Linked DNA regions of Homo sapiens: region 2 is linked to region 1. The links come from fine-mapping of genetic effects on gene expression. A gene starts in region 1. The other region holds a variant in brackets. All regions are shown on one strand. Distances are from middle to middle.

Region 1 (5,378 bases):
ACCTTGTATTCATTATTTTAAAAAATTATAATTACAAGTCAATGTTCTTCCTTTAGGCAGGGGGAGGAGGGCGGAGGAGAGAAGCATAAGTCTTTGGTTAAGGGAGGAAGGGTTTTCCTAAAATATTCTGGCCCTTCTTATCTCCAGGAGGAGGTTGCAAAACTTAAGTTTGAAAGTTTAGGGAAGGGCAGAGACGTTTCAGGGACAAGATTAAAAACAAATTATACTTATTCGAGGCTGGGTATGGTGGCTCATGCCTGTAATCACATCACTTTGGGAGGCTGAGGAGGAGGATCGCTTGAACCCAGGAGTTCGAGATGAGCCTGGGCAACCTAGCATGATCCTGTCTCTACAAAAAAAAAAAAAAAAGAAAAAAAGAAAAAAAAAATTAGCCAGGTGTGGTGGTATATGCCTGTGGTCCCAGCTACTCGGGAGGCTGAGACAGGAGGATTGCTTGAACCCAGGAGGTAGAGGCTGTGGTGAGCCATAATCATGCCACTGTACTCCAGCCTGGGACACAACAAGACTCTATCTTTACAAAATAAATAAATAAATAAAATTTAAAAATTATACTTCTTTGGCTGGGTGTGGTGGCTCATGCCTGTAATCCCAGCACTTTGGGAGGCCGAGGCAGGTGGGTTATGAGGTCAAGAGATCAAGACCATCCTGGCCAACATGGTGAAATGCTGCCTCTACTAAAAATACAAAAATTAGCTGGGCTTGGTGGCACGTGCCTGTACTCCCAGCTACTCGGGAGGCTGAGGTGGGAGATGGCGTGAACCTGGGTGGCGGATGTTGCAGTGAGCCAAGATTGCGCCACTGTACTCCAGCCTGGTGACAGAGTGAGACTCTCTCTCAAAAAAAAAAAAAAAAAAAAAAAAAGACATTATACTTCTTTAAATCAATGTGTTTTAAAGTTTATCACTGGAATTACTTTCAGAAAATTAATTGGTAAGAGTTTTCTAAATGTTCCCAAAGCACAGCAAAGGTCCGTGGTTTACAGCACACACTAGGCTACATCAATGGGAAAATTGGATAAAAAGACAGGGCTAACCTCACCAAAGAGCAAGGAAAACCAGCAAAGTTTTCTGGTAAAACACAGGCAGGAAGTTTCTCCAAATACTGCTTTACTCGCACTTTTAAAAGGCTTTCCTCCCTTCCCCCCAACTTCTAAAATAGTTTCAGGATAACAAATTTGTAACAGCTGGTCATCAAATTCATGCGCACTCCCAAAAGGACGACAGCCCTAAGACTGACTATAAATAATACATCCATCTGGCTCTTGTAGGAGTATTGGATTGACTTGTTGCCCATCACAGTGTCTCCCTTCTGCCACCCCACAATGACAGGGTGAAGCTAGACAGCCTCACTGAATGGTATATGGTTACAGTTGAGGCACTGCATTGTGGGTACCCCACATTTCTGAGATAAAGTTAGCTGATAGAATTACCAGAGCATAATCAAATGCAGTCATTACAGAGGGAGCCTATATCATGTTACCTTTGAAAATATTTTAATCTAGAAACATCATACACTGTATACAAAATTCATGAATCCCTGACGCCTGGGCGTGGCCTTGGACATATTATTCTGAGCCATCTCCTATTTTCTTTCATATGTAAATGTTATTCTTGAGCTAGGAATAGGAGAGAAAGAGAAAATTGAAACAGCCAGACCAAGTGTTTTTGAATGCTCTTAAAAGACAAAAAAAAAAAAAAAGACAAAAGTTTGTATCACATCAGAAGTTCCCTACGTGCTCTTCAAAGCTGATTGCTTGCAGTTAAAAGAACCCAGAAGAAGCAGGCACGCCATGATTTTGAAGCTCCGTTTTTGTTCTGTTATTCAACTGCAGTCAACTTCCAACTGTTGAAAAAAAGATGATTTAGAATTAAAGGGTTGCTTGTCTGTGTCGCAAGGCCCTTCAACTTGTTCACCTGTGATATCCAGAGACTCCAAGATGTTGGTGAGTTTCTATTGCAATTGCCATATTGCCATGGTTTTGCCCTTTGTGTTGACTGTAGCATTGTGCTGTTTGAAGACAGAGCAGCATACTGCTTTGTGTAGTAAAAATTGATGGATAATGTACTTAAAGCTTTTAGATGTACACTATTCACATTCTAAATGACAGATACAAAAAGGAATAATCAGAATTTAGATTGTTGAATCATTGCCTCCAACAGCCAACTCTTACCGTGACAAAGTCAGTAGGGCTGATCTTAGAAGTGTAGGACTTGTGAGTGTTACGTGGTTGTACTAACTGGTACCTTAGTGGAGGGGCAGATAAGGTAAGTAGAAACAATGCCTGCTTTCTCCTCCATGTCTGGGTCCTACACATAGTCCCCAGTTTGCCTGGTTTGTAGAGGTTTAAACACAGAACAGAGGGTGTTGGGAATGAGACAAAGAGATTGTCACAGGAACATGGACCCACGGTTTTCCTTTGGTGATGAAAACAATCCTGTCAATATGGAAAACTGTGTTATCACAAAATGGGCTTAGCGAATAGAAGAAATGTCACCTACCAGCCGGAAACAACAATTCGCTGACCATCTTTGGCCTCTTGCCACTAAGGAGTTTTGGTTTTCCCATCTGTAGAAATTCTTAATTGAGTCCATCAGATTCCCAGTCATCCTAGCCATGGTTACCTTCTTCTCTAAGTTGGCAGGTTAGTGAGCTTAGGCTAGCACTTCAGCATCAAATTTAGACTTCATAATAAAGTAAATCACACAGGGAATAGCTGTCAGCATGGTGACCACCTTGTTGTCCATTCCTACTCAGGGACTGGCCTGAAGTGTTTTCACAGCCTGGGTCACTGTGATGTCCTGGCCCTGTTTGCTCAAAGTGTTCATCTCAGAGTGACTTGTGAGGTATTGCTGAGCACATAATGGTCAAGATAGCTGCATAAGCAGGCGTGGCCCCAAATGTAGTCACCTGACTTCAGAAAATCAATTTGGATTCTACAGAAAGGTTCTGTTGGATTCTGAGTGGAACCTCTTTGGATATGCCTTTGGATTTCAAGATTGAGCCAAGTGTTGACATGGGAAGATGCTCCAGTTCCTCCAGTTATCTCAAAGAAGCTCATTACCTTGCTAAGGGTATGGATTGTCCTTTTCCAGAAAAAATCCTCTTGATATTTTGCATGCACACATGCAAAAAATAATAACAACAGAAGCTGTTTTCCTGTATGTAATGAGAGTGTTCCTCAGGTTTCTGGTTTATCTTAATGGTATCTCACTCCTTTTCTTTTCCTTTCTTTCTTTCTTTGTCTGTGTGTGTGTTTGTGTGTGTGTGTTTATGTGTGTGTGAGAGAGAGAGAGAGAGACAGGGTCTTGCTCTGTCACCCAGGCTGGAGTGCAGTGGCATGATCTCTGCTCACTGCAGCCTTGACCTCCTGGGCTCAACTGATCCTCCATCTCAGCCTCCCAAGTTGCTGGGACTACAGGCATATACCACCACTGCTGGCTAATTTTTAATTTTTTTTTTCTTTGTAGAGACAGGGTCTTGCTTTGTTGCCCAAGCTGTTCTCAAACTCCTGTCCTCAAGGAATCCTTCTGTTTTGGCATCCCAAAGTGCTGAGATTACAGGCATGAGCCACTGTGCCTGGACTTTTTTTCTTTTTCTTGAGAGCCAGAGCAAAATTCAAATTTTATCAGTTTTAATTAATTATATTTTAAAAGTGGGAATTTGGCCAACAAAGTATCTTTCCTTTCTATACAAGAAGGGTATGGCGTTTGGCAATGAGCTCCTGAAAATGTAAAGAAAGCATGAGGATAACTTTGGGACTGATACTTGGGTCATTAAAAGTCTTGCAAAACTAGAATTTGTTTTCTTCTTCTTCCATTCTCTCTGTAGGCATTTAAACATACTCTCAGGCCAGGCACAGTGGCTCATGTCTGTAATCCCAGCACTTTGGGAGGCTGAGGCAGGTGGATTACTTGTGCTCAGGAGTTCGAGACCGTCCTGAATAACATGGTGAAACTCCATCTCTAAAAAAAAAATTAAAAATTAGTCAGGTGTGGTGGTGTGCGCCTGTAGTCCCAGCTACTCAGGAGGCTAAGGGAGGAAGATCAGTTGAGCCATGGTGTTGTCACTACACTCCAGCCTGGGTGATAGAGTGAGACCTTGTCTAAAAAAAAAAAAAAAAAGATACTCTGTTTTTTTTTGTTCTAAAAAATTAGACAATATTTTGTTTAAACTTGCTTAGTGATTTATTTATTTATTTATTATTTTTTATTTTTTTGAGACAGAGTCTTGCTGTTGCTCAGGCTGGAGTACAGCGGCATGATCTCGGCTCACTGCAACCTCTGCCTCCCGGGTTCAAGTGATTCTCCTGCCTCAGCCTCCCAAGTAGCTGGGACTATAGGGATGCACCACCATGCCCAACTAATTTTTGTATTTTTAGTAGAAATGGGTTTTGCCACATTGGCCAGGCTGGTCTTGAACTACTGAGCTCAAGTGATCCACCTGCCTCAGCCTCCCAAAGTGCTGGGATTACAGGCATGAGCCACCTCATCCAGCCTGATTTTTTTTTTTACCTTCAAATATATTTATTTACAGATTGAGTTTTAAAATTGTCTTAAAGTTCTTGTAGAGATTATGTCTTTTTTGTTTTGAGACGGAGTTTCACTCTATCGCCAGGCTGGAGTGCAGTGGCGCGATCTTGGCTCACTGCAACCTCTGCCTCCCGGGTTCAAGTGATTCTCCTGCCTCAGCCTCCTGACTAGCTGGGACTACAGGTGTGCGCCACCACGCCCAGCTAATTTTTTGTATTTTTAGTAGAGACGGGGTTTCACCATGTTGGCCAGGATGGCCTCCATCTCTTGACCTCGTGATCCACCTGCCTCGGCCGCCCAAAGTGCTGGGATTACAGGCATGAGCCACCTTGCTTGGACGAGATTATGTTTTACATATGCAATTCCTTCCTTTATCCTTTAAATATCCCCACGGATAAGGAGTGCCTCACCTCTGGACCTGGGCATTCTTCAGTATTCCAATACTGAGACTGGTTTTGTTTTTTCATTTTTCAACAACAATGTATGGAATTCTTACTCTGTGCCAAGCCCTATGCCGAGTACTTTAGTGCCTTATTTCAGGTATTGCTAGTCCTATTTCTCAGAAAAGGCAACCGAGACTCACAAGAGTTAAATAACTTGCCAGATGACACACAGCTAGAAAGCAGAGAAGCCAGAGTATTCAGATCCATGCCTCTCCACTTCTGCTTTCCCACTGTGCCTTTCACTTTCTTGGGAAGCCTTTTCCCTTGTTCTTCAACTTGGATTAGAATAGCCTGTAATTCTTCTCATGAAGACATGCCTCACTTTATACTAAATGTTACCCTCTTTAAATGATTTAAAATAATCCTGCAGTGATATTCTCCTTTC
Region 2 (5,378 bases), 220 kb before region 1:
GTTCTTCCTCAATTCATTTCAGTGTTCACTGGAGAATTGGTAGTTGTTGCCAAACGCCTGTCAGTCAAGAACAGTGGCCTGTTTGTTAGGGTTGTTGCAGTTATTGTGGTGAACACTAATCAGTCATGGGGACCATGACTGTGGCATTCTGGTTTAACCAAAGAGTAAGTTGAGCCTCAAAGGCACAGCTTGCAACAATAGCTTCATTTGAATTACAACATATTTGAAAAGGGATGTCAAATAGGCATTAATTTATGCTACAAACATTTGTTCCAGGACTTCTAAATCTAAGGAATGTGCTAGCCTTTGGGAACTCAAAGATGAATGAGAAATAGACTCTGTTCTTAAAAAGTTTAAGATTTAGTAGAAAAAGATAAGCTGTGTTTATAAATAACCAAAAAATACAGCAGAAAGTGAGAAGTGTCCAAGGAAAATGAAAACTAAGTGCCAGGGTGGCGGGGGGGTGCGTAGAAATGGGAAACTGCCTTCAGCTGGAGCGTTCAGGGAAGGCTTTATTGAGGAGCAGACATTTTAGCTGGGCCTGAAAAGCTTATAGCATTTCAATAAGCAGAAATAAAGAGCATTCTAGTGGGGAGGGAATTGAGCCATCAAAGCCCTGGAGAGGGAAAGTGTAAGGTAAGATTGGGGCACAGTAAAGCCTCCCTTCCTCCTTCAATGGCTAACTCACATTCATCCCTCAAGTCCCAACTCAGACCTCACTTGCTCAAGGTAGACTTCTCGGACCTTCAGTCTACTTCCCTGATCATGTTTCCAAAGCATACTATATCTGTTTAACTTATGTCCCCCTGCTATATTGTAATGTTCATTTGTTTTGTCATTTTATCCACAATCCCATAGCTAGTGCTAAACATTTTGCAAGTGCTTCATGAATATTTATTGCATGAATAGTTGAATGTGGCCTTGTGGAACTGGAATGCAGAGCTCATGAAGGAGAACAGCAGAAGATAATGGTGAAAGGTAGGCCCTTAAATAAAAACAACTGCCGGGCACGGTGGCCCATACCTGTACTCCCAGCACTTTGGGAGGCCAAGGCGGGCGGATCACCTGAGGTCGGGAGTTCAAGACCAGTCTGACCAACATGGAGAAACCCCATCTCTACTAAAATACAAAATTAGCCAGGCGTGGTGGCCCATGCCTGTAATCCCAGCTACTCGGGAGGCTGAGGCAGGAGAATCACTTGAACCCGGGAGGCAGAGGTTGCCGTTAACCAAGATTGCACCATTGCACTCCAGCCTGGGCAACAAGAGTGAAACTCCATCTCAAAAAATAAAAAAAAATAAAAACAATGATACTTATGGAATATTCACTACATGCCAGGTACTACCCAAAACACTTTATGGTTATTAACACATCTAATAACCTCATAATAACCTTATATGGTTAGTAACTATTATTATCCCCCTGTCATAGATGAGGAAATGGGTGTACCAGCAGGTCAAGTAAGTTGTCTCAAGGTAACATAGCTGATAAATAGTACACCTAGGATTTCAGACTCAACCTATCTGATCTCAGAGTCTGCATATTTAACCATGGACCATAGGAAGTGTGGTTAAGACTCCATTAAGATTATTGCAGAAATTCTGAAAGCCATTTTAAAAGTGACATAACCTCACTAAGCCCAAATTAGGGAGAAGCACTGTAGACGTCTACACCCTGGGATGGAGGGGTGAAAGTGGAGGTAGGGGTGGGACTGCAAAGCTTCTGCCTTGATTTGGAGTCTGAGTGGTGCTACCTGCCTACCAATATCCCATCACTAACACCTCTCAGACCCACCATCCAGCTCCTGCTTTCCTCATTTCTGATAATCCCACCCCTGCCATTCCTTCCAAATTACTCTCATAGAGCTCCATTTCTTCCTTCTATCAATTACCTCTCTGCTGATTCCATTCTTTTGTGAACAAATCTCTTTGGTCATTACCTTTTTCATTAAAAGCTCATTCCATTTTTTTGCTGTAATGAAAAACAGGATTTTCTGAGCAGTTAGCTAAATGGCTGGGATAAGTTCACAGCTTCATTCATTCAGTAATCATTTATTCAAAGTCCACATTCCTAGGTCCTAATGCCCTCTTTTTTCTTTCTTTTTTTTTTTGAGACGGAATCTCGCTCTTGTTGCCAGGCTGGAGTGCGGTGGCATGATCTCGGCTCACTGCAACCTCTGCCTCCCGGGTTCAAGCGATTCTCCTGCCTCAGCTTCCCAAGTAGCTGGGACTACAGGTGCGTGCCACCACGCCCAGCTAATTTTTGTATTTTTAGTAGAGACGGGGTTTCACCATGTTAGCCAGGATGGTCTCAATCTCTTGACCGCTTGATC[C/T]GCCCACCTCGGCCTCCCAAAGTGCTGGGATTACAGGAGTGAGCCACCGCTCCCGGCCTTTACTGCCCTCTTAAGGCTACTTTCCTCTTTGCTTTTCTACCTTCAGTATCCAACTATGTACTCGTTCTTTAACCTGTTATAATCTGGCTTCCATCTTCACCAACACCCTCAAACTTTGTTCTCCAGATCATTCCCATACCTCCTAATTGTCAAATCCAAGGCCTTTTCTTAAATCTTCAATCTTGTGGCCGGGCGCGGTGGCTCAAGCCTGTAATCCCAGCACTTTGGGAGGCCGAGGTGGGCGGATCACGAGGTCAGGAGATCGAGACCATCCTGGCTAACACGGTGAAACACCATCTCTACTAAAAATACAAAAAAAAATTAGCCGGGCGCGGTGGCAGGCGCCTGTAGTCCCAGCCATTCGGGAGCCTGAGGCAGGAGAATGGCATGAACCCGGGAGGCGGAGCTTGCAGTGAGCCGAGATCAAGCCACTGCACTCCAGCCTGGGCGACACAGCGAGACTCTGTCTCAAAAAAAAAAAAAAAAAAAAGAGAAATCTTCAATCTTGTAATCTCTGGCACTGAGCACTCCATGCCACCTGCTTTTCTTTGTTGGTTTTGTTTTGTTTTGTTTTGAGACAGAGTCTTGCTCTGTTACCCAGGCTGGAGTGCAGTGGCATGATCTTGGCTCACTGCAACCTCCGCCTCCTCGGTTCTAGCTGTTCTTCTTCCTTAGCCTCCCGAGCAACTGGGACTACAGGTGCTCGCCACCACATCTGGCTAATTTTTTTATTTTATTTTTATTTTTTGTATTTTTAGTAGAGACAGGTTTTCATCATGTTGGCCAGCCTGGTCTGAAACTCCTGACCTCAAGTGATCAGCCCAAACCTGCTTCTTTTTGAAACTTTTTCTTTTTGGGTTTTCAGTTTTTCTCCTCCCTCTCCTCCTCCTTATCCTACTTTTATCTTTTCCTACCTCTTTGACTATTCCTTCTGTCACTCTGTCTCCTTGATGTACTGTTTCTAAGGCTGTGCCCTTTGCCTCTATTCTCTCAGCCTTTGTTTCCGTGCAATCTCTAGACTATCACTTTGTGATGGTATCTCCCATGTCATTTTCTCTAGTACTAATTTTTCTTTCTTTCTTTCTTTCTTTTTGTGTGTGTGTGTTTTAGTAGAGACAGGGTTTCACCATGTTGCCCAGGCTGGTCTCGAACTCCTGAGCTCAGGGAGTCCACCCACCTTGGCCTCCCAAAGTGCTAGGATTACATGCGTGAGCCACCACACCCGGCTTCTAGTACTAATTTTTCTGTGGATTTCCGGGCCTGTAATTCCTGGCCTGGATTTCCATCAGTTTTAGTACATCTCCAGACTCTCAAACACAGACTAAACTCATTTCCTTCCACTTCCAACTTCTTTCCCCTTTTTCTTTCCTATTTATATTAATAGCATTCCATTCTTCTGTCAATAGCTTTCACATTCATTGTCACAAAGTCCTGTAAATTGTCTCGTAAAGTTTGTGTTAAATCAGTTCCTTCTTCCTCTTTGCCTTAATTCAGATTATAATCATCTCTCATCCTAGTTTCCCCGCAAAAGTGATCTTTTTAAAAACTGTAAAGTCATGTGACACATCTGTTTAAAGACTTCCCAAGAACTCTGTAGTTTGAAGTTCAGTCTCTGAAGAGAACATTTAAGGCCTTTCACACGCAAATTCCAGCCTCGTTTCCTGCATCCCCACCCAAAAAACTTGGCTCTGGCAACCCACAGAGAACATCTTGTAGAAGCACACCATGACTTTTTACTCTGTGTTTTCCTTCTGCTCTGCTTATCACACTGCAATTTTTTTTTTTTTTGAGACGGAGGCTTGCTCTGTTGCCCAGGCTGGAGTACAGCGGCGCGATCTCGGCTCACTGCAAGCTCCGCCTCCCGGGTTCATGCCATTCTCCTGCCTCAGCCTCCCAAGTAGGTGGAACTACAGGCGCCCGACACCACGCCCGGCTAATTTTTTGTATTTTTTTTAGTAGAGACAGGGTTTCACTGTGTTAGCCAGGATGGTCTCAATCTCCTGACCTCGTGATCCGCCCGCCTCGGCCTCCCAAAGTGCAGGGATTATAGGCGTGAGCCACCACGCCTGGACTGACACTGCAATTTTTTTTCCCCCACTTTGTGTTTTGGATCTCAGGTTCACAGGATTGAATTATTCACATGCCGCAGCTCATGGCATAGTATTACAATTGGCCCTTCCAAAGTCCTTCACTTTTTATTTATCAATTTATTCCTTTTATCCTTATTCCCATTTCTCCTACACTGCAACTTTCTAGTGTGTTTAATGTTTACGCTTTTTTATATTTTCCTTTAAAATAAGTAGTATTTTTAATTTCTATAAATGGTATTATATTATAGATTTTATTGTTTCTTTTTTAACTTAGCACTGTTTTCAAGTTCTGTCCATGTTGCTAAATCTATTGCTTCTGATTGCTGCATTGTACTCCGTGCTGTGCATCCAGCATATTTTACCTATCTACTCCACTGATAACAGACACTATGAATGTTTTATGCCTGACCTCCTGGACACTGGATCACTACCTAAAAGCAGTTCTCAAACCTATCAGGCTCAACAATCTCCTTTAAATATTAATAACAAATACAGTGTCTCCATTATTGTGTAGTGAAATTCAAAAATAATATAATTTACTGTGGTAGGTGACCTCTCAGAAAGCCCCCAGTGATCTCCCCAGCAATATTCTTGCCCTTATGTAATCCCCTCTCCTTGAACTTGGGCTGCACTTTTTTTTTTTTTTTCTGAGATGGAGTCTTGCTTTGTCGGCCAGGCTGGAGTGCAGTGGCACCATCTCAGCTCACTGCAACCTCCGCCTCCCGGGTTCAAGCAATTCTCCTGTCTCAGCCTCCTGAGTAGCTAGGATTACAGGTGTGCATCACCACACCCGGCTAATTTTTGTATTTTTAGTAGAGACAGGGTTTCACCATGTTGGCCAGGCTGGTCTCAAACTCCTGACCTCCTGATCCGCCCACCTCGGCCTCCCAAAGTGC

The links. PIP is the estimated chance that this variant, and not a neighbour inherited with it, causes the effect.
Region 2: its variant is the best candidate, but not a certain one, in a credible set for the expression of AKNAD1 in esophagus muscle (GTEx, PIP 0.89).

The regions. Positions count from the first base shown.
Region 1 is chr1:108,854,643-108,860,020 of GRCh38, reverse strand. It overlaps AKNAD1 (AKNA domain containing 1), which reads left to right and starts at 2,927. Exons shown (of 16, transcript NM_152763.5): 1 at 2,927-3,092. SPATA42 (spermatogenesis associated 42) reads right to left here and starts at 2,804. Exons shown (of 3, transcript NR_034168.1): 1 at 2,520-2,804; 2 at 1,754-1,863; 3 at 1,497-1,636.
Region 2 is chr1:109,078,815-109,084,192 of GRCh38, reverse strand. It overlaps TMEM167B-DT (TMEM167B divergent transcript), which reads left to right. Exons shown (of 2, transcript XR_947688.3): 1 at 1-978. Among named protein-coding and RNA genes, the nearest start is that of TMEM167B-DT, 3.2 kb to the left of the region's middle. The variant C/T (reference allele first, on the strand shown) is at 2,333.